Linked DNA regions of Homo sapiens: regions 2, 3 and 4 are each linked to region 1. Evidence: fine-mapped expression QTL. A gene starts in region 1. Each other region holds a variant in brackets. All regions are shown on one strand. Distances are from middle to middle. Region 1 holds the start of PIK3C2B (phosphatidylinositol-4-phosphate 3-kinase catalytic subunit type 2 beta). Region 2 overlaps PIK3C2B (phosphatidylinositol-4-phosphate 3-kinase catalytic subunit type 2 beta). Region 3 overlaps PIK3C2B (phosphatidylinositol-4-phosphate 3-kinase catalytic subunit type 2 beta). Region 4 overlaps LRRN2-AS1 (LRRN2 antisense RNA 1).

The links. PIP is the estimated chance that this variant, and not a neighbour inherited with it, causes the effect. A credible set is the group of variants that fine-mapping cannot tell apart.
Region 2: its variant is the best candidate, but not a certain one, in a credible set for the expression of PIK3C2B in esophagus mucosa (GTEx, PIP 0.70).
Region 3: its variant is the best candidate, but not a certain one, in a credible set for the expression of PIK3C2B in whole blood (TOPMed, PIP 0.50).
Region 4: its variant is the best candidate, but not a certain one, in a credible set for the expression of PIK3C2B in whole blood (TOPMed, PIP 0.78).

What each region holds. Positions count from the first base shown.
Region 1 is chr1:204,491,721-204,497,099 of GRCh38, forward strand. PIK3C2B (phosphatidylinositol-4-phosphate 3-kinase catalytic subunit type 2 beta) reads right to left here and starts at 3,085. Exons shown (of 33, transcript NM_001377334.1): 1 at 2,636-3,085. It overlaps LOC124904584 (translation initiation factor IF-2), which reads left to right and starts at 31. Exons shown (of 2, transcript XM_047439554.1): 1 at 31-41; 2 at 2,456-4,012. The coding sequence starts at 31. The coding sequence ends at 3,476. RefSeq lists silencers at 1,126-1,205, 2,765-3,234 and enhancers at 2,275-2,464, 2,535-2,664.
Region 2 is chr1:204,435,016-204,440,394 of GRCh38, forward strand. It overlaps PIK3C2B (phosphatidylinositol-4-phosphate 3-kinase catalytic subunit type 2 beta), which reads right to left. Exons shown (of 33, transcript NM_001377334.1): 22 at 5,177-5,306; 23 at 3,920-4,056. Among named protein-coding and RNA genes, the nearest start is that of PPP1R15B, 26 kb to the left of the region's middle. The variant G/T (reference allele first, on the strand shown) is at 2,278.
Region 3 is chr1:204,460,409-204,465,787 of GRCh38, forward strand. PIK3C2B (phosphatidylinositol-4-phosphate 3-kinase catalytic subunit type 2 beta) reads right to left here. Exons shown (of 33, transcript NM_001377334.1): 3 at 4,811-4,911; 4 at 4,042-4,196; 5 at 3,604-3,724; 6 at 142-253. Among named protein-coding and RNA genes, the nearest start is that of PIK3C2B, 32 kb to the right of the region's middle. RefSeq lists a silencer at 1,793-2,087. The variant C/T (reference allele first, on the strand shown) is at 2,429.
Region 4 is chr1:204,601,177-204,606,555 of GRCh38, forward strand. LRRN2-AS1 (LRRN2 antisense RNA 1) reads left to right here. Exons shown (of 13, transcript XR_007066814.1): 7 at 1-1,975. Among named protein-coding and RNA genes, the nearest start is that of LRRN2-AS1, 40 kb to the left of the region's middle. The variant G/A (reference allele first, on the strand shown) is at 2,354.

The DNA.
Region 1 (5,379 bases):
CCCAATATCTCTCTGAGTAGCACTGAGGCTATGAACACAGGGTAAGGAGTGAGACTGCTTGCTTCAAATCCCACCTCTATCATTTACTAGCTGGCTGACATCAGTGAGTGTTAGTGATTACATTACTTGCCAGCTCAGCATTATCCTCTCTATAGGCAGTAGCCAGCCTTTGGAAGGTGTTTATCCCTCCTCAATTCCTACAAATATCATGAGGCATCCTTTCCTTCTCTCCCAGTTCCCATCCTGCCAACACTATTTAAAGAAAAATACCCAAGGAATACAGCAGTTACCTTGGTATTGTCACACTACTCTTTCCTTAGCAAGAAAGAAAAGGTCCCAAAACATTCCCTACTCCATGTGGCCCTCAGATCCCACCCTATCCCCATCCCTCACAGATCTCCCTCCCTTATGTGGGAGGCTAAACCCAGTAAGAATAATCATTTGTAAAGTACTCTGTAGTTTTCAGGGTACTTTTGCACACATGATTCTGTTTAGTTCTTGGTAAGCAGCATTTCATTATTAATCCTGTGAGCCATGGCTACTCCCCCACCTCCATTTTACAAATATACAAACTAAATCTTAGGTCCACAAATTGTCTGTGCTCACATAGCTAAAAAGAAAGTCACACCAAGACACTGTTTTCTCTACTACTTCACATTATGATGTCCAAGTTCACATCCTGGGAACATGAGGAGCCTGAACCTTATAGCTAGTTACAAGCCCCTAAAAGGAACAGAGACCTCATTTTTCTACCCACTGGTCCAGGCCAGGGCCATCCCAGCTGAAGCACCACAGACATGATATAGATGCAAAGCACCAGGCACAGGAGGAGTGGGGACACCACCAAGCGGGGACCAAAGGCCCACGAGGGTATAGAGTATCTGCCAGAGCATACTAGGTCATGACAAAGACCAAAGGCATTCCAGACCACCAAGGAAGTCCAAAGGAGCTCCCCCAGAAACAGCCCAAGTCCCCAGATAAACTGACCCTTCCTCACCCAGCACACCCCCTTGGCCCTTTCTCACTCATGCTTCCAGTGGAGAAGGAAATAGACAAGCAGCCGGGTCTGAGAGCTTGATCAGATTCAGCCATACACACTCAGCAGTAAGCTCAGAGCCATGGCAATCAAACCTCAGGCTCACCCAAAGGCCAAAGGAGAAGCAGCCACAGCCTGGGTCTAGGGCTCCAGCTCAGAGCCACCATCTCTTCAGATGCTGGCTGCCAAGCAGAGCTATAAAATGTGCCTCGACTTAATTTTTCCATGGACACAACCTCAAGATGGGCCAGCCAGACTCTGGAGGAGCTGGGATTCCAAAGTCTCACTGCCTGTCTGCTCTGGGATCGGCAGCTGGAGTTGGGGAGAGGGAAGTATTTGGGGGTCGGCATTGCCACCTCCTGGGCCATTTCTCTTCCTAATATCTTCCCAAAGCCTGATGCAGCAACAGAGTAAGTTTTCATTCAGCACTGATTCAGGGTTGGAATTTAGTACAAATTGCTTACATCTGCCTGGCCATATCCCAAATAGGTAGTTTAGAGCAAGGAGGAGGGGCAGCATTGGCCCACTTCTTGGAGCCCGGGTAGCCGCCTGCTAAAGAATCTGGTGCCATGCTGGGACCAGCCAGCCCAGGGTACAAAACTCTCCAACAGAGTTGAGAAAAAACAGCCCAAGAGAGCTGCCAGAGACAATACAGCGATTCCATCCCAGGCATGATTGGAAGGGCTGGGGCAGGGAAGCTACGAAGACCCCAGAAGCGGGTGGAGAGGAGAAAAGGCAGGCCTGAAGGAGCAAGAGCAATGGCAGAAAACACACACACACACACACACACACACACACTTCAACATCAGCCAACTAGGGTGTGTGCACTAACCTCATACATTTGGTAACCTCTTCCCACAATCCAGAAGCCTGCCAAGCCCCTGGGCTCCCCACCCTACTCCACCCCACACCAGCTTGGCAGCCTTGCTTGTGCTTCCTGCTGCGATTGCTCCTCCAACATCAAAGTCACCGCTGTCGGGAGCTGAAAATGAGGGACAAGTATAGGCCAGGAGAGCAGCGCCTTCTCCCAGCACCGGCGAACTCAGGCCTGAGGGTCCCTCTCCCTCTTTCAAGCTTTCAGTCTCCTTTTGCTGCAGTATCCTTATAAGGGAGAATCCAATTCTACCCTCCGCCCGACTAAGAAACGTACACATTCCCCAGGCTAGATGCCGACTTCTCACCCAGTCCACAGAAGGCACTAACCCCATCACAGGACAGGTTTTGCTTTTTTTATTTCTTATCTTAAATAAACAAACCCCAAAGCCATTGACTGGTTCAGATCGCCCTGCAGCTGGGAGCCAGGAAGTGTGTTTAGCGAGAAGGGGGTGGGGACGCGGGTGCCTGGAGCCCCAGAGGCCCTGAAGCTGCTGGAGTGGAGTGGAGTGGGGTGAGGGGCAACCTGCTCTGCCCGGCGGGCAGGAGCTCAGGCTCCCACGGCGTCCGCCGCTCAGCCCGCCGCCAGGAACCCTCGGCTGCTTCCATTGTTGCACCTCCGCTGTTGCCATGTTGGAGGGAGAGCCCCCTGACCTCGGCTGCCTCCACTCTGGGGGCACTTTACAGACGCTGGGGCCGATGCAACCCGCAGGATGCGTGTCCTACCTGCGCTAGCTGCTGGCTCTGCTGCAACATCCGACGTGTCTTGTGCCTGGCGACGTGGGCTGCTCGCTCCGCGCCTCCCGGGCTCGCTCTGCGGCTCCAGGCGCCTCTTGCACCAGCGCGAGAGGAGCTGGCCGGCCGCACGCCGCCTGCTCCCGGGCCGCTCCCCTCTCCAGGCTCCGCACAGACCCTAGGCTCCAAGGGGCAGAGGGAGAGGCAGCAAAGGGCGCAAGGACCAGCTTGTGGGGGTGGGGAGGGGTGCTCTCCGCCGAGAGCGTGCGCGAGCTCGCAGAGTCAGGCCACCCCGGGTGAGACAATAGCGGCAGCAGCGGGCGAGAGAGGGGAAGCCATCTCCCGGACACCCGGCGCACTGCACGGCGACGCGACGCTCGGCCAGACCCTGCCTGGACAGGCAGGCACCCGGCCGCCGGCTCCAGCCGCAGCGCCGAATCCGCCGCGAGCCGGAGGGCGGGGCGGCTGCTGGAACCCGGGCCGCCCTTCGCCTCTCCCCTCCCCTTCCCCCTCCTCTTCTCTTCTCCTCTCCTCCTCTCCCCTCCGACTCCCGCCCCACTTGCCATTGCGTGGGGGAAGAGAAACGCGCTGGCGTCAAGTTGTGCTCTGCAACCCAAGAGCCAGGATTTCCACTCCCCACTTGGGTGAGGGTTTTTGCGGATGGTCGTTAGTTTCCCCTGCTGGAACCCCTTGGCTTTGGGTCAGAGGAAAGCTCAATCATTCTGCTAGAAATGACGGTGCTGAGGTCCAGTTATCCGTTTCAGGAATTTCTACCATAATTACGGTAGCGATGTTCGGGGGATCCCCTACCTTGAGGGTTAGGTTGGGGTAGAGAGAGGCTGTCTCCGGGCTTTACACGCTCAGTGTCATTCGTCTTTCTGTCTCCTTCCTTCCTCCCTTTCTGGAAGGGGAGTCTCGTTTGTTTTTGTATTCGCCCAGGTGGATCTTCCGAGCTGCGATCCAGGAAACAGCAGTCAACCTAAGTAGGGAGGGGAGATAGAGGATCCTCCAACCCAACTAGGGTAGTGAGAAAAAAAAGTAAAAAAAAAAAACCTTTCATACAATATGTTATATTTAAATTTTCTACTCTAAATACCTTTCTTCCAGCAGTGGTCTCTGGAAGAATTTTCCTAAAGGCTCCACCCAAAAGAAACCATGAGTTGGCCAGCTCCTCGTTTGCATTTGGTTTGCATAGTACCAACGATCACTAATCTCAAAGTATATTTTCCTAAAAACGTGAATCGTGTTTTCCTCCACTGCCCTCATTTCTTCTTTCTTTCTCGACAGACTATGAAGATTAACACCTGGTCCTCAGCCTCTCAAGTAAAACCATGATTAAATAAATTTGTTATGCTTTTCTCTGGTTAACTTGTCTTTTGTTATAGAAGTGTCGGCTGTGACTCTTATGATGGGGAGGAAAGGGATCACTCCCCTTTCTGATCCTACAGTGCCTTCTGTACCCAATGCTTGTGACTTTCAGTATTCCACTTCACCCTCTGAATATCAAGAATAGCGTCCTCACCTATCACGCTTTCGTAATGATCAAAGGAGAGAATGTAGGTGAAACATCTTGATAATTAACTGAAGGCAGCTTGGTCTGCACATATGTCATAATGTATATGATGCTACTCCTGATCTCAGGAGCCACAGGGGTTAAAAAACGTGTCCGTGCACTTCTTCACCATACAAATATTTATGACAGCTTACTCTGTGTCTGTCATCAGGTCAAGCTCAGGAGCCTGAGAGAACAGAGTGTTACAGGGGCCACTGGTGGTTCTTTTTTTTTTTTTTTTTTTTGAGACGGAGTCTTGCTCTGTCGCCCAGGCTGGAGTGCAGTGGCGTGATCTCGGCTCGCTGCAAGCTCTGCCTCCCGGGTTCACGCCATTCTTCTGGCCCAGCCTCCGGAGTAGCTGGGACTACAGGCGCCCGCCACTATGCCCAGCTAATTTTTTCTTTTTTTTTTTTTTTTTTTTTGTATTTTTAGTAGAGACAGGGTTTCACCGTGTTAGCCAGGATGGTCTCGATCTCCTGACCTTGTGTTCCACCCACCTCGGCCTCCCAAAGTGCTGGGATTACAGGCGTGAGCCACCGCGCCCGGCGACCACTGGTGGTTCTATGCTGCTGGGGTGAAAAGTCTGAAGGAAAGAACTAACAGGAAGTAGGCATAGGTAGCTGAGTGGAGGATCAGATCACAGGCTTTATCATGCATTTTGGTAAGGAAAAAATTGAATAAAGAGAAACCAGGGCATGCCAAAAAGTTTAGGTGCTGTAGGTGACAGAGAACCTGCTGTGCACAAATGGAACTGGGAAGTAGTGTGACCAGAAAAAGACTTCCTGGCATATTATAGAGAAGGATTTGGAAGATGCACTGCATGTCTTCCGTTTGCCCCTCCAGATCTTCCTGGCCCTCTGGCTTCCTAGACTGGGTTGGCCAATGGGGGCCATGGCTGAAGATTGAATAAGGAGGGAGGTCAGGGGAAACTGGATATTTATTCTTCAGGATTCCTCTCTTTGGGGTCACAGTGCGCTGGCTGCCACCCTCAACCAAAGATCACAGCTTCCACGGGTGGTTCTCTCTCCCCTCCCTCTCTCTTTTGTTTTTCTTTTTTTCTTTTTCTTGAGACCGAGTCTCACTCTATTGCCCAGGCTGGAGTGCAGTGGCTTACTGCAACCTCTGCCTCCCGGGTGCAAGCGATTCTCCTGCCTCAGCCTCCTGAGTAGCTGGGACTACAGGC
Region 2 (5,379 bases), 57 kb before region 1:
CCACTGAGGAAGCCAACTTAAGAATCTCTTCCTGACCCTGCTCAGAATTCTATCATCCTTCTTCCTGCCCCAAATAAAATTCCCATTTCCAGAGTTCTTGGTAACAGCTAAATGCTAATCTAATTAAAGTCACTGCACTCCAAAGAAGAGCTGAGGCAGCTTAACACGTCTAGAGAGTGTTTTACACTTGAAAATGGGACATCTTTAGTTGGTAAAATATGTTAGAGATATTTCTGAGTTTAAAGCAGGAGAGGAGTGGTGAGGGGTTGACTCCATCTTATTTTGTCTGGTCAACATCCATCCCCTTATCTGTCTTTCCAGAAAGAAAAACTACATGGAATGAGGAAATAGACCACTCCTGCCTTCAAAATCCTCTTCGTGAGGTTTATAGAATTCCTAAGAACTCAGGAAAGACATCAGCAGAGAGCAATGATCGTCATAGCCAGGTAGGAATGCATGAAATTAGGAATGAGGGAAAGCTTACTAGATATGGAATGCCCGCCCTCCTTGCCTCCTTCCATAAATTTCCACCCATCATCCTTCAATGACCTTGAGTCCCATAACTTTCCAGACCTTCCAAGCTCATACTGACTTCTCCTCCTCTGAACCCCTACAGATGCACTGTCACCTCCATTCATACAGCACTGACTTTGCCCTTTCAGTCCCATGGGGTTTACAGATCTGTTCTCCTAACAGCTTCTTGCCTATTTCACAATGCCTATTGCAAAACTAGCTCCACACAGAATGCACCCACCCAGCTACTTGTCGAATTACAACCTGATGATGGATCCACCAGAAACTAAGAATGGAAAGGTTATAAAGAAATCACAGCATTCATCTTCTGGAAGAAAAAGACTATTTCTTAGAAAGTAAAATAAATGAATAAAAGCACTTAATAAGGAGCATAACGCGTAACTCCCAGTCGTGACCTGGATCTCTATCAAATCCTCTCCCTGTCACAGATGCTCTTTCTACCTTAAATGAATCCTATTTTGGCTGAGAAAATAGCTGTGTGCCTGTGGGTAAATGACTAAACTCTTTTCACCTCCCTAAGTTATGCAGGGTGTTAGCCACTTACTGGCAAGAAGTCTCACTCTATAAAGGGACACTCTGCCTCTGATTTCAGGGGTTTCATGTGTAGGGTGTGGGATACTCTCTTGCTGAGTAGGTGGCCAAGAGAAAATACCTCTAGTTTCTTTCTTCTGGAAGTCATCAAATGAAACTACCAGCATTGCTGGGGGTGGTGGCTCATGCCTGTAATCCCAGCACTTTGGGAGGCTGAGGTGGGTGAATCTCTTGAACCCAGGGGTTCAAGTCCAGCCTGGGCAACATGGCAAAACCCCATCTCCACGAAAAATAGAAAAATTAGCTGGGCATGGTGGCACATGCCTGTAGTCCCAGCTACTTGGAAGGCTGAGTCAGGAGGATCACATGAACCCAGGAGGTGGAGGTTGCAGTGATTGTGCCACTGTATTCCAGCCTGGGTGACAGAGTGAGACCCTGCCTCAAAAAAAAAGAAACTACCAGCATTATTCTTGGAGAAAGGCTAGAAGGGCAGAGAAGCTATCTTTGAAAGACTGAGATTAAACATGAACATGCAGAGTTAGTTTCTCTCTGTGTGTATTCTCGTACATTCTTCTGTACATTTATTTTTATTATATTCTTATACATTCATCTGTACATTTATTATTATTTAGTATTATTTCCATACATTTACACATATATGACTATTACATTGGCAGGGAGTAATCACAACTCCAGCACCTAGTACAGTGCCTCTGCATATGGGTGTTTAATACCTGAAAAATGCATATTAGCATAAAGAGTAAGTATATGGGAGGTTGGTAGTAGAAAGGAAAAAAATCATTACTCCTCTCCAAGGGTAGAGGGCCTTGAAATGTATAGCATAGAGTGGCAGAGTTTTGAGGAATGAGAAGGGAAGAAATGACTTTCCAGGCAAAGGAAATATTACTGCCTACAGTACTGCAGAAATGAAAGTAGTAGCCCCCCCTGCCCCCACCGCATGATCTAGCTAGTAACCTAGCTGGAGCATAGGTTAGCATAAGATGGTAGGTTGCAGTGGATGGGATTACAGGAGTCAGCAGGGCTGGATTATAAAAGGCTCTGTGTGCAATGCTATCTGTTAGGATACACAGAGGCTTTGAAGAACTTATCCACACTTAAAAAAAAAAACAACAGCTGGGCACTGTGGCTCATGCCTGTAATCCCAGCACTATGGGAGGCTGAGGTGGGTGGATCACCTGAGGTCAGGAGTTC[G/T]CGACCAGCCTGGCCAACATGGTGAAACCCCTTCTCTACTAAAAATATGAAAATTCGCTGGGCATGGTGGTGCACGCCTATAATCCCAGCTACTTGGGAGGCTGAGGCAGGAGAATCGCTTGAATCCAGGAGGTGGAGGTTGCAGTGAGCCAAGCTCGTGCCATTGCACTCCGGCCTGGGCAACAAGAGCAAAACTCTGTCTCAAAACAACAACAACAACAACAAAACACCTCTGAAATCAAGCAGAGGCTGGCTCTAGATGGAGGAGAGGCATTCCAGTGGTTCAGGGGACCGACAGCAAAGAGCTGAACAAAATCAATGGTAACAAAATAGGAAGAAGAGGACAGATTTGAGAGATAGCTGGGAAGAAGAATAAACAGAGCATGGTACAGAAGTGAGATAGAGGGAAGCATCAGGAAGACCGTGGCTTTGGCTTGGGTAAATGCACAGAAAGAGTCACACCATTGACTGATAGCAAACACAAAAAGCAGGTTTCAAGAGGCAAAGGAGAGACAGCAGGCTCAGTTTTGCCTACACCGAGTTTGAGACGTGGGTGAAACGTAGGTGGAAAAGTCCAGCAAGAAGGTGGCTATAGAACCACCTGGAGGAAGGGAAGAGGGCTAGAGGAATGGCTTCGGAGGTCATCAAGATACAGGTGGTAGTTGAAGTAATAAGAGGATGAGCTGGCACAAGAAGAGTGCAAAGAGGGCCCAGCAGGCCAGGAATTAAGCCCCGGGGAACACAAACACTGAAAGCCATTTAAGATCATCTAATTACACATTCACTAAACAATGTTCTGATTATACCTTGGCTGCCCATGCTGGTTTTCCCTCCAGGATAAAGTACATTGATCAATATAAATCAGTATTTGGGTCCCTTGAAGTTAAAATTATACGAATTAGCATTCTGGCCTATAGCCAGTCTCTTGTGAGTTTGGTTATTGTGATTTGTTCCTTCCCAGTGTCCCTACTTTCCTCAACCTAATTAACCCAGAGACTAGAGTTGTGATGCTGGGAACAGGCCACGGACCCTAGCAGGCTACCAGGGCCCTACCACCCAGGAAAGCTCCACTTCTAATCTAATCTTCTTTCATCAGGAACCAGCCAGCCCTGTTTTCACTCGTCTCTGTCTCATATCTAACCTCAATCCTAGCTTTGAGTTACAGCCTTGCCACATATCAGCTCCATAACTAGGAATGAATGAGTGAATCTTAATTCACAGCTATGAAAAGAAGGGGCTGGCATAAAATGATCTCTAAAGTCTCTTCCAACCAACTCTTTTTCTAGAAAGTACCACTGAACCCTCTGAGAACATAAGGGAACCTGAAGAGGATCCACAACTGGGAGGGATACAGATAGGCTCTCAAAAGCTGGCGCCTCCTCCAAGACTTAATCTGCCAGGAGAACTCAGTGAAAGTTTCTCAGTCCAGCATCAGGGGATTTTCTCAGCCAGCTTACAAGAGGCATTTGAGTGAGTCACCCCCAGATATTTGGAGGCACCAGTCAACCAAGAAAGGGTAGGTCCTTCTGCCAACAAAGCTGAGCTGTCCTCTCTGAGCAAGTGCAGGTCTTGTGGTTAAAGAGCTGTGTGCCGGCATCAGGCACACACACACACCAGACGCACTCCCCACCCACAACCCTACCTTCTCATACTCGTCCTCCCCAGGGTTGTGTTTCTGCAGCCAGTCTGCCAGGGGCCGGTCCTTGAACGAGCCGGTCACCCCATGCTCCACCTGGATCTTACGCAGGGTCTCAGCATTAGGGATCATCTCCACCATCCCTGTGAGGGGAGAAATGGGGGTCACGTTCCAGACCAGAATGAAGGGGACTGCAGGGAGAGGACTACAAGGACTGTGCTCATGCTTCCCTATAAATTAAGCTGTAAGGCATTTGGACTAAGTCTGATAATAACAGGAAGAGAATAACCATAGAAAGGAAGGTCATTCCCACATTTCCTATTCCATACTGTGACTTTTTGGTCTCTCCAGTTCATAGCTGCTGCTCCCTTTGTTTTTAGCTTTTACTATGGGAATTTGAAAATATATATAAGAATAAAAAGAATGGTATCATGACTTCACATGTAACTATCACCCAGCTTCAAAAATTGTCAACATTTTGCTAATCTTGTTTGCTAATCACACAACCCTATTTCTCCACTCCCTGCCACCTTGGTTGGAGTATTTTAAAGCAAATCCCAGATACTTTATTTCACTCATAAATATTTCAAGTGTAATTAACAAAGACACCATGCCATTGTCACATCCAAAAAATTAACAATCACTCTTTAATCTAACTCAATCTATATTCAAACTTCCCCCAACTGTCTCTCTCCTTCTCTCTCTCTCTCTATATATATATTTTCACACAGGGTCTCATTCTGTCGCCTGGTCTGAAGTACAGTGGCACCATCATGGCTTACTGCAGCCTCAAATTCCTGGACTCAAGCGATCCATCTGCCTCAGCCTCCCGAGGAGGTGGGACTGCAGGCACATGCCATTAGGCCTGGCTAATTTTTTATAATTTTTATTAGAGATGAGGTGTCTAGGTTGGTCCCAAACATTCCTGAGCTCAAGCAATTCTCCCATCTCAGCTTCACAAAGTGCTGGGATTACAGGCATGAGCTAGCATGTCTGGCCCAAAAAATATTTCCTTACAATTGGTTTGTTTTAATCAGGATCCAAAGTCTACACAATATGCTTGGCTGTCACGGCACCAAGTCTGTTTTACTTTATAACAGTCTTCTCCCATGCCTCCCTTTTAAGGCTATCCCACAGCTTCTCATGAAATAATCTTGCCCTTTTCACTTTCCTGGAGGAGGACACAGTTTGTGTTGGCAATGGGCAGAAGGACAATAAGCAAAGCGGTCCCCTCCTCCACCCTCACCCCTACTCCCAACTGACCTCTGCCCCGGCCGGTGGAGAAGCAGCGGAAGATGACCATGCGCATGTCCAGCCCCTCCTGGACCCAGATCTTGCTCATGATGCGAATCATCTGCAGCGTTAGCATGTCCTGGCGAAGGTCGTCCCCACACTGGATGGAGGGAGAAAGTGACCAGATCTAATCTCCACTACCTCCCCAGCTCTCAGGTCTCCCAAGTGCTCAA
Region 3 (5,379 bases), 31 kb before region 1:
TAAGAAGTGACCTATTCAGAGAGGGGCGGTGCCCTTATCTCAGCTCAGCACTCCTACCCCCCTCCCACCTGATGTGTTCTATATTGTATTCCCATTCCACCTCCCCAGCCCTGGGCAACCCTCCACCACCCTCACACGAACCGTCCGGGCCAGGTCACTGCGCACAACCTTCTGCTCCATCAGCTGTAGCCGAATGTCAATGTCAAACTTGCGGCAGTATTGGATGTACTCATGACTGCCCAAGGCATGCTTGCTGGTAGGGTAGAGGGACAAGACCATTAGCATCCTGGGGACTCAGTGGCAAGGGAGATACATACCTTAGCCTTGGGGAGAGACATACAGAAAGAAGGTTTAGGTAAGGGGGTAGTACCCGTGTTGTACCCTACTTTGGCTCCTAGAAAATGACACGGTAGAGCTTAGGAGAAGGAACAGAGGTCTATCTAAACAAAAGCCACCTAATATACTTAATCCTTGGCCGGTATAAATATTGACTCTCTTAGATATTTATTACCCGTGTGGTAATCACTGGTTCACTCCAGGGCTGGGAACTGTTGGAGAGAGCGGGGAAACAGAGGCACATCACAGGGAGCAGTTGCTGAAGCCCTATCTTCTGGGCCTCTGTATAGGGGACAACCAGGAAGAGACATGTTGGAGTCCACCTGTGCTCAGGCTCCAGGGTGGGAGCTCAGCGAGAGACCCCTCTTCCAATGCTACCAACTAGGGTGCTGAGGCCAAAAAAACTTGGGGCAAGCCTACCAAGCCTCCAGATCAGTGTCCCCACCCAACTTCTTTTTCTGCCTTCCATCTGTTGGCCCTGCCTGCTTGTGAATAACCTTACAAATTTCTATGACTTCTTGAAAAGTCCCAAATGCATGCCAGTCCCACCTGCTCAAGCACCCATGTGTGAGACTCCCCCTTTCAGAGAGAAGGCCTAGGAGCCCTCGGCGATCCAACCTCTTCCTCTCTCCCAAATCACACCTTCAACAGCAAGGAAACCCAAGAGGAGGGGCAGAGGGAGAACTACCTCCAGGCCAGCACTGCAGGCCTGGGCCTGGCCTCAGCAGCTGGGTAACAGAAGCCGGAAAAGGACTTCCTTCCTCAGCAGAGCTGGGAATCTAGGCCAGAAATGGAGAGGAGAGGACAGGAGCATAAGGGGGGCAGTATATGTAAAAGCTGGCGGAGGTGCAGGGCCCAGGGTCGTCTAGGTCCCATGAGGGCTCGAGTGAGGGGTTCTCCACATCCTGAGAGGACCAAATCTCCGATCTAGACCCTCTCAGATCTAAGACTGAAGTGCAGCCAAAACCTGGAGGTGGTGAGGCTGGGCTGTGGGGCTGGGCCTGGTGGGAGAGCCTGGGAGGAAGGAAGAGTGTGGTGGGGCTGGGGGAGGTGGCAGGAAACCCAACCCTCCCACGGGACTGCCTCAAGGTTCTTATCTGAGAGCAGCCTGCATCCTGAACCCACTCACCCCCTCAGTATCAGCCCCTCCTGCCAGGCAGGGGTAGAAAATCTCAGGGCTTCCTTGGGAACTAGCAGATTTCTGGAACCCCCGGAGCGTCCTTTCCACCCCCATCCCAGGCAGTTGTCATGTGTTGGGGGTCTGGGGGCTGGGCCAGGAGACAGCATTGTGCTTTTCTGTTGGGTGGGAGTGGGGCTCCTAGGCCAGGAGTCATGCACACAGGTCCCCTGGGGACTTGCTTGATCTTCTCTGTGGAAGGCCTTCCTCTCTGTGCATTCAAGTGAGAGTATGAGGGGTGTGATCTGAGGACCGCTGACCCTGTCCCACCTCACTAAGAATATTTCACCTGAGTCTTAGCAGGAAGGTAGAACTTGACAGCTCCCACTACCTCCGGACCCAGGGGCTCCAGGATTTGGGGTGCTGCAAGGGAAATGGCAGTATCTGTGCAGCCCAGAGCCCTAGGACTTCTCTCCGTGGGCTGCTCCTTCCCTGCTGGTATTTACTGATTGCTCACAGGTCATTCTCACATTTCACCCTCACTGCAGCTTACAGAGGGCCCTGAGCATCAATCAGCCTTCACAACTAGTAAGTGGCAAGTCCGAATTCAAACCTGTGTAATGGCGTCAGCAGGAGCTCCAACTTATCCACTATGTCCCCTTTTTCCCTTCTAACAGTGGCAGGCCACCTGGCACTCTCTCTGCCAGGCAACCCTGAGTCTAGGACCCCTCCTGTTCCTCTAGGGGAAAAGTGTGTACATAAGTGAGTTTAAAGGTGGGGCACATTTGAAGGGTACCCTGGAGTTGTACCATACAGAACCCTGCCTCTTTCCTTTCCCTTAGCTTCGAGATGAGGAGGCAGAGGCCAGAAAGGACCCCACAATATCCTTAAATTTGAAATAAGCCCAGATAGCTGGGCACAGTGGCTCACACCTGTAATCCCAGCACTTTGGGAGGCCAAGGCGGGCAGATCACC[C/T]GAGGTCAGGAGTTCGAGACCAGCCTGGCCAACATGGTGAAACCCAGTCTCTATTAAAAAATACAAAAATTAGCCGGGCGTGGTGGTGCTTATGCCTGTAATCCCAGCTACTCAGGAGGCTGAGGCATGAGAATCGCTTGAGCCTGGGAGACGGAGGTTGCAGTGAGCTGAGTGAGATGGCGCCACAGCACTCCAGCCTGCACGACAGAGTGAGACTCTGTCTCAAAAAAAGAAAGAAGTCCAGAAATGAATCTTCCATCCTGACTGCCAAATCTTATGCTCTAGACATAGATCAACCATCCTTGCATCTAGACCTGAATGTAAGAGAGAGAAAAAGCAAGCAGTGGCACTTATAGGGCACTCCTAAGAAGTGAGACACAGGTCTCTCCTTTCTCTATTCCCAAAACGTGCTTCCTCCAAGTGGACAGAGACTGGGGGCAGGAGCGGCTCTGAAGCCTAAGAGAGGAAAGCAGATCTTATCTGTCTGCTGTCACACAGCTGTACCATCTGAGAAGTGATAACCTTGCCCCTGCCTCTCTTCCACTGCAGCCCTCCAGAGCCCAGGGTAGTGGAAAGGGGGTTGCCTCAGCTGGTCCACATCAGACTTTCCAGGGAGGCTGCTTTCCAGAGAGGGCACTGGATGGAGAGGAGCTGGAGGCACGCCTTTGGGAGGAGGATAACTAGCTGCACGGGCCAGCTGGGGAAAAGACTTGTTGGCAGGAGAATGGGGAGAGACAGTAATTGTAATTTCTCCCCTGGGCTCCACAAGGGAACTTCTGCCCAGTCCTCATTTTGCCCCAGCCATAAAAACACCACACATAATCTAGAGCAGGAGATACAGCACTACCCATATAGTCTCCCCAAGCCCACCCCTCCCCACAAATACACACATCTCTCCATAAGCAGAATCTGCAAGCAGATATGACCTAGTCTTTGCCTAATCCCAGCTCCAAGCTCTTTCCACAGCAGACTTGGCTCAGGACGTCAGCCAACCCTGCTGGAAGACAGAGCTCCTGGGGAAAGTGCTACGTGGCCGAGAGTGTGCCCAGAAAGCAGGAGTCTTGACTGTGGGATTGGGGCGGAGCTGCCAGGCCGGTCCCAGCACCAATCCCATGAAGCCCCCTCACAATCTTACTACCAGGAAGGCAGGGGCTACCTCCCACCCATTCACTCACTTCTGCAGGAACTCCTCCAGCCCGCAGGGCTTTAGCACAAAGTCACCCACGTCCACATTCCTCAGGTCATCATGGGTGTAGCACAGGGTCTGGTAGATAAGCAAGTCTACAGTGGAGGAACCTGTGAAGGGTAAGGTAGGGGGAGCAATCATGATGGATGTCAAGGCAGATGGGTCTCAGTTTCCCCACCCTGATCCCCCTTTCCAGCTAAGTATTCTCCAGCACCATCACCAACCAGATAAAGCAGGCAAGTAGTTCAGAGTTGAGGAAAGTGACTGTACTAGAATGCTGGCCCCATAGCCAGCCCCTCACCCCCAAAGGAGCATCCTCACTGCCCTTCATCTGGGCCACAAGATGAGGTGGAAATCGAGTCAAAACACAGTCATCCCCACCCCACTTCAAGGGATGCTCACATCCTCTCCCCCCTCACTAACTTACAGTTGCAGGTGAAAGTGAGTGCCTCTTGAAGCCTGTCACACAACACAGTCACCTTCAGGTTGACCTCATCCCCGAGGTGCTCTGGGCTAGGGGTGACAGCACTCCAGACATAGCCAGTGAGGAAGTAGTCTTGGATGTCAGAGCCAGATCGAAGGCTGTACAGGAAGAAAAAAAACCCTCACTGTGCCTTTAGAAGAGAGTAGTCAAGAAGACATCTGTTGGGAACCTCATGCTCTGAGGCTCAAGAGCCCCTCTGTCCCCACTCAGCCCAGCCCTCCAAATTTGCAGGCCAGGATGGGGGCAGTGGGGTAGCAGCTCTGAGAAACCCCCTTCTTGACACTTCTCTTATAATTGCAAAATGTTTCCCACCATTGAACAGTACAAATAGTTCTAAAATGACAAAGCTTTCCATGCTAAGTTTAATGGAAAATTTTTTATGAATCCATTTCCTTTCTCTTTTAGTTCCAGATAACACTCTTATCGCCAGCTGGGGTGCATTTGCTCTTAAGGGCAACTGAGGGTCAGACTCTAGAGTGATCAGGATACTTTGACCATTCAATGGAGGTTTCATGAATTTTGCTAAAAATGTGAGACTTCTAAGATTTCAAAAACCCTGCAGACACTTGTTGTAGGAAGCATTTTCATAGCTATGAACTGAGATTTACTTATTATGGTGCTTCTTCCCTCCTAAAGAAAGTTTGGAAATGGATGGCCCCCCTCCCCATCCCCCATAGCCCTCCCAAATCCCACCCCATTCTTTAACTCTTACATATCCAGCATGTGGCAAAATGCAGCAACCTCCTCATCTCTCTCTTCTGAGACCTCAAACAACTCATGGCCATTGGCAACAGTGTGGGGCCGGGAGCCCACCTTTAAGAGAAGAGCAGACGACTCAGTGCCTTTTTCCTCGTGGTGTCCCCTCCCTATGAGGTACTCCAGACCTAAACTCAAACTCTAGATGAAAAGACTTTCTAGTCACTCGACATCCAATGAAAGGGGCACAAGAACATATGGGACATCCGGGAATACATGTATCTGCTGTCCTAGGAGACCAGGAGCCAAGTTGAAGAAGGAGGCGAAGCTCTGGCTGAGATGGACAAGAGTGTGGCCAAAGCCACTTCAGGAGGGGACAGTCTGATAAGCGTGAGGCAGCCAGTAAGGCAATCCAGTGCTGTTGGGCCTCTCCTGCAACACGGGCTTTCCGGGGGATTCTCCCAGAGGCGTGACAGGGAGCAGAGCAGACAGCTGTTTTTCCCAGCCCCTCTACTGAGGCTAGAGCAGGTGGGCGGCCCAAATGGTGCCCAGGGAAGCTTGGCCCTGGTCTAAAGCCTCAATATC
Region 4 (5,379 bases), 110 kb after region 1:
TCTTGGACTTCCATTCCAACATTGCCCCTGGCTAGCTGGGTAGCAAAGGTCCACATTTCACCCACCTGCCATGGGAGAGGTTGGTGCTAGAGGGGAGAGAGGGCTTGGGCTCGGGAATACGATAGACTCTGGTTTGAATCCTGGACCTGGCACTGGGTAAATCACATAAACTTTCTGGACCTCTGTTTCTTTGTCTAAATGTGAGGTTAAAACTCTTGACCACGGCACAGAGGATGTTTCGGGCAGTGAAAGTACTCTGTAGGATACTGTAATTAATGGTCGATACATGTCATTATACATTTATCCAAACCCACAGAATGTATAACATCAAGAGCTGCCCTAATGTGAACTGGAGACTTCGAGTGACAACAATGTGCCCATGTAGGTCATTGATTGTAACAAATGGATCACTGTGGTGGGGCACGGGGGAGGCTGTGAGCATGAGGGCAGGGCTGTGTGGGAACTCTCTGTACCATCTGTTCCATTTTGCCCTGAGCCTAAAACTGCTCTAAAAAGTAAAGTCCATTAAAAAACAAACAAACAAACACAAAGCAAAATAAAACAAGATCATGAATTATTCGTGAATCATGAATTCAGAATTATACTTAGTCTTCTTGTAAAACATAATTTTGTATACTGCTTTAGATGACACAAACGACTCCCTACCTCCTGGGATTTTTGGGAGGATTGAGGATAATGTGTCATAAACAATGTAATAATGGGGGCAATAATAATAATAATCCATAATAGTAGCTCTAGTTGTACAGAGACCCCTGCCCACCCCTCCCATCCTCTCCTGGACGGCATGGGAGTGAAAGGGCTAATAGATGTGGAAATTCTTTGGGCTTCCGCATGCTGTTTTTAGTTAAAATGACATGACAATAGTACTTACATAAAATTTTCTAATCCTTTGTGTCCCTAGAATATGAAGCTCTGGTGCCCTGGGGTGAGCACGAGCACTTCTAGAGGCAGGCTTTCCTCCCCTCCTCTCCCCTGAATCATTGCTCTTCCCGTCTGAATGTTCCCAGTTCAGGGACTTGCTGTTTATCAGCCACAGGAAAAGATTCAGGATGCAATAGGGTAGATTTTTGTCTTGCTAAGTCTCCATGCTCCACAGGGAATGGCCAATTAGAGTCCAGCCCAGACTCATACATCACTGTCACACCTGGCTCCTTGGGCCTGGGGGCCGGGCCGGCTCCCAGGGAGGCATCCATAGATCATAGCCATCTCCTAGCAAGAGGAAGAGGAGGTGTGGGTGGGGTGGTGGGAGGTGGTGAGGTCTGGAGGGGGCAGAACATGATCTTTGGTCGGAAGCTGGAACGTCAGGGAGGGGCTTGAAGAAACCATGAATTCTTCATTACTAAGTGCCTTGTGGCAGGGTAAAGCCAGATAAATTTAAATATGCCCATCACCCAGAGCTTTAGAGCAGTTTTCCAAAGAAACTCAAGGGTTTGTGTTTCATTTGTGTGGTCCCTGCCCCTTTTTTCCCCTACCCTTATTATCCATAATTCTGGGGAGGCACTAAAAGCAAAGAAAGAAATCAAAAGCTCTGGCTGATTTTTAACTTGATATGGTGGCAGGTTAGAGCCCTCTGTGGTTGTGTGGGTGCGGGGCGGGGGGGTAGGAGTCTGATGCCCACCCACCACTCCCAGGTCTCATCATCCTCATGGTTCAGTCCTTCACACATTCACTCATTCATTCACTCTTCAAAAAGCTTTTAATAAACACCTACACTGAACCAGGCCATGTTCTGGGTGCTAGGGAAAGAAGTGGACAAGACTCTGCTCTCTTCATGGAACCGAGTATTCTAAGGACACAGCCAAGTCAGGAGACTACACCCCTAGTATAATAAGTCCTGTGGCTGTACTGAGAAGAGGTCCTGACTCAGAACTGGAGGACATCATGGAAGGCTTCCTGGAGGAAGTGCCATCTAGGCTGAAACCTAAAGGATGAGTAGAACTAACCAGATGAAAAGGTAAGGAAAAAGGGTCGTGTGGAGGAGAATGTTCCAAGCTGAGAGAACATTGTGTATGAAGGCCCAAAGGAGACAGCAAGTGTGGTTTGTTCTAGCAACTGAAACACATTTGATGTGGCTGGATCTCAGAGTGACGGGAGAGCCAGCATGAGATACCGAGGCCAGGTCATGCAGGGCTGTAATTGTGCAAGGCATCTGGACTTTAGTCTGAGGACAGTAAGGAGCCTCAGAAACGTTTAAAGCCAGGACATGGTAGCACCAGATTTGGATTTTAGAATGAGACTATTGGCTGCTGACTCTCCACCACAAAGCAGAGAGGCTGGGTTGGAGGATATCATGGTGGATGGGGGAGAGGTGGTAGTGGCATTGCACCTCCAC[G/A]CCTGTTCCTGCACTTCCACACCTGTTCTCCCAAGTCCAGACTCTCCTTTCATCTCCTTGCCCTTGCTGTGGACCACGCAGCCAACTCAGGAGGAGGTGGTAACCCACTGCTTCCTCATCCCAAATCTGTCTCATTGCTGTGGGAGCTTCTACCTGAGACCACTGCTCTTGGGTATTTGTTTTACTCCTTGCCTTGGAAGCCCTGGTTTTCTTTGTTCCTCTCAGGCCTGCTGGAGGTCATGACTCCTCAGGGGCTGGATAATGGCCATGAGATTTCTCCAGAAATGAAAATAGGGGGTTCTGAAGAGAAGGCAGAGAAGGGCTGAGATTGCAGGCCAAACCCGACTGAGGTCTTGGGTTCTCATTTCAAGTCCAGAGGTGCTGGGGCAGCTCCTAGTTCTCAAAGACTCAAACGCAAAGCAGGTGGAGAAATGGAACCCTTGTGCACTGCTGGTGGAAATGTAAGATGATGCAGCCACTATGGCAAACAATAAAAAATAGAATTACCATATGATCCAGTAATCCCGCTTCTGGGTATATATCCAAACAAATGGAAAACAGAGTCTTGAAGAGAGATATTTGCATACATCCATGTTGATAGGAACCTTATTCACAGTAACCAAGAGGTGGAAGCAACCCAAATGCCCATTGGCAGATGAATGGATAAACAAAATGCGGTACATACATGCCAGGGAATATTACTCAGCCTTAAAAAGGAAGGAAAGTCTGACATGTTCTACAACATAGGTGAACCTTGAGGACATTGTGCTAAGTGAAATAAAAGACAAATACTGTATGATTCCACTTACATGAAGTATCTAAAGCAGTCAGATTCATAGAGATAGAAAGTAGAATGGCAGTTGTCAGAGGCTGGGGCTTGCGGGGATGGGGAGTGGTTGCTTAATGGATACAGAGTTCAGTTTTGCGAAATGAAGAGTTCAGGCTATTGGTTTACAACAATGTGAACATACTTAGTACTATTGAACACTTATAAATGGTTAAGATGATAAATTTTGTTATGTGCTTTTTACCACCATTAAAAATAAGAAGAAAAGAAAGTAGATGATTTACATTTTTTAAAAAAGCAAAGCAGGGCTGGGCACGGTGGCTCATGTCTGCAGTCCCAGCACTTTGGGAGGCCAAGCGATCACTTGAGCCTAGGAGTTTGAGAGCAGCCCAGGCGACATGGTGAAAATCTATCTCTACAAAAAATACAAAAATTAGCCAAGCACGGTGGTGCTTGCCTGTAGTCCCAGCTACTCAGGAGGCTAGAGTGGGAGGATTGCTTGAGCTCAGAAGGTTGAGGCTGTAGTAAGCTATGGTGGTGCCACTGCACCCCAGCCCGGGCGACAGTGTGAGACCCTGTCTCAAAAAACAAAAACAAGCTGGGCGTGGTGGCTCATGCCTATAATCCTAGCACTTTGGGAGCCTGAGGTGGGCAGATTACTTGGGGTCAGGATTTCGAGGCTAGCCTGGCCAACATAGCGAAACCCCATCTCTACTAAAAATATAAAAATTAGCCAGGCATGGTGGTTGTGTGCCTATTGTCCCAGCTACTTGGGAGGTTGAGGCAGGAGAATCACTTGAACCCGGGAGGCAGAGGTTGCAGTGAGCCTGGGCAAGAGAGTGAGACTCCGTCTCAAACAGCAACAACAACAAAAAACAACAACAATGACAAAACTAAAACACACACACACAAACCATACACATACACAAAACCGAAACATAGAACCTGCCCTTTCTTTTAAAAAAATAAAAATAAAAAACCAAAAAAAAGCAAAGTGAAGGTAAGGGTGGGGAAGGTAAGGCTTTGGATAAAAAACCAAAAAAAAGCAAAGTGAAGGTAAGGGGTATAGGAAGTGAGAGGTCAACCCTGACTCAGACTCCCCCCATTTGAGTAGCACTGGATTCCCAGGCACTCTTTCCCCTGCCTGGGGATGGGTGGGGACCCAGAGAGGCAGCTGGAGGAGAAGGCCCTGGGTGCTTAACTGAAACCAAAACAGCCAAGAATCACAGCTGCCATTTTCCCTAACTGCACCTCCTCCACACACATACCCCACTTCTTCTCTCCTCTCTGCATGTATTTATAACTTACTTTCCCCTTGGCATTCACCTTAGCCTGTTTCTTCTCTATAAAAATAGTGGGGAGGCTGAGAGGTGGAAACACAGTGTTGCTTTGGGTCCCGTACCCAGGAAGGTCTGCCTTCCTATTCCTGCCACCTGTTTTGCCTCTCTGGGGTCCCACTGGAGGCAGAGGATGTACGGGATGAAAGCTGGGAAGCCTCCCTGCCCATACAGGGAACGTCAGCATGGAAGGAAAGGCTGCTAATTGCTGCCGATTTCCCTTTCACTGAGTGAAATGTGACTTTGCACTTCTCCATCCTCCTGCTGGCCGAAGCAGCCAGACCTATGGGGGACCCTCAGCACCGGCCTGCTGGCCACACACCCAGATGGGCTGGACATAGGGCATCCGGGGGCTCGAGTGGTTTCTCAGATGTGCCCTCCTCCACTACCTCCAGGGGTGCCTCTAGCCCTTGGCTTCCTCTGCCACATGGCCTGGTCCATTGCATGTCTATGTTCCTGAGATCTTGACCATATACATCACAATTTAATTCCTCAATATGCCTGGCATGTTAGATGTAGATTTTTGGGCCTCTCTTGACTGGAGTGTGGCGGGTATCCATATAGGAGGCCAACAGGAAGGTGGTGGTGGTGATGGTGGATCTACATCCTCCTCCAAAAACAAGCCCACTCCCTCCTCCTTGGCAAAGCCTTCGCCAACCATTCTAGTCTTCTTGGACCTCCCCTTCTGAACTGTTAATCTGCATTCCCCTTAATCTAACTCTTGATCATCGCTGACTTGTACTTGACATAGTACAGAAATTCTTTCACTGGTAATACTGGACTCCTTAACCAAGTGTTAGACTCCTGGAGGGAAACACTCTTCATTGCTTCCTCGATTTTTTGCAGCAGGATCTTTTTTTTTTTTTTTTGAGACAGAGTCTGGCTCTCTCGCCCAGACTGGA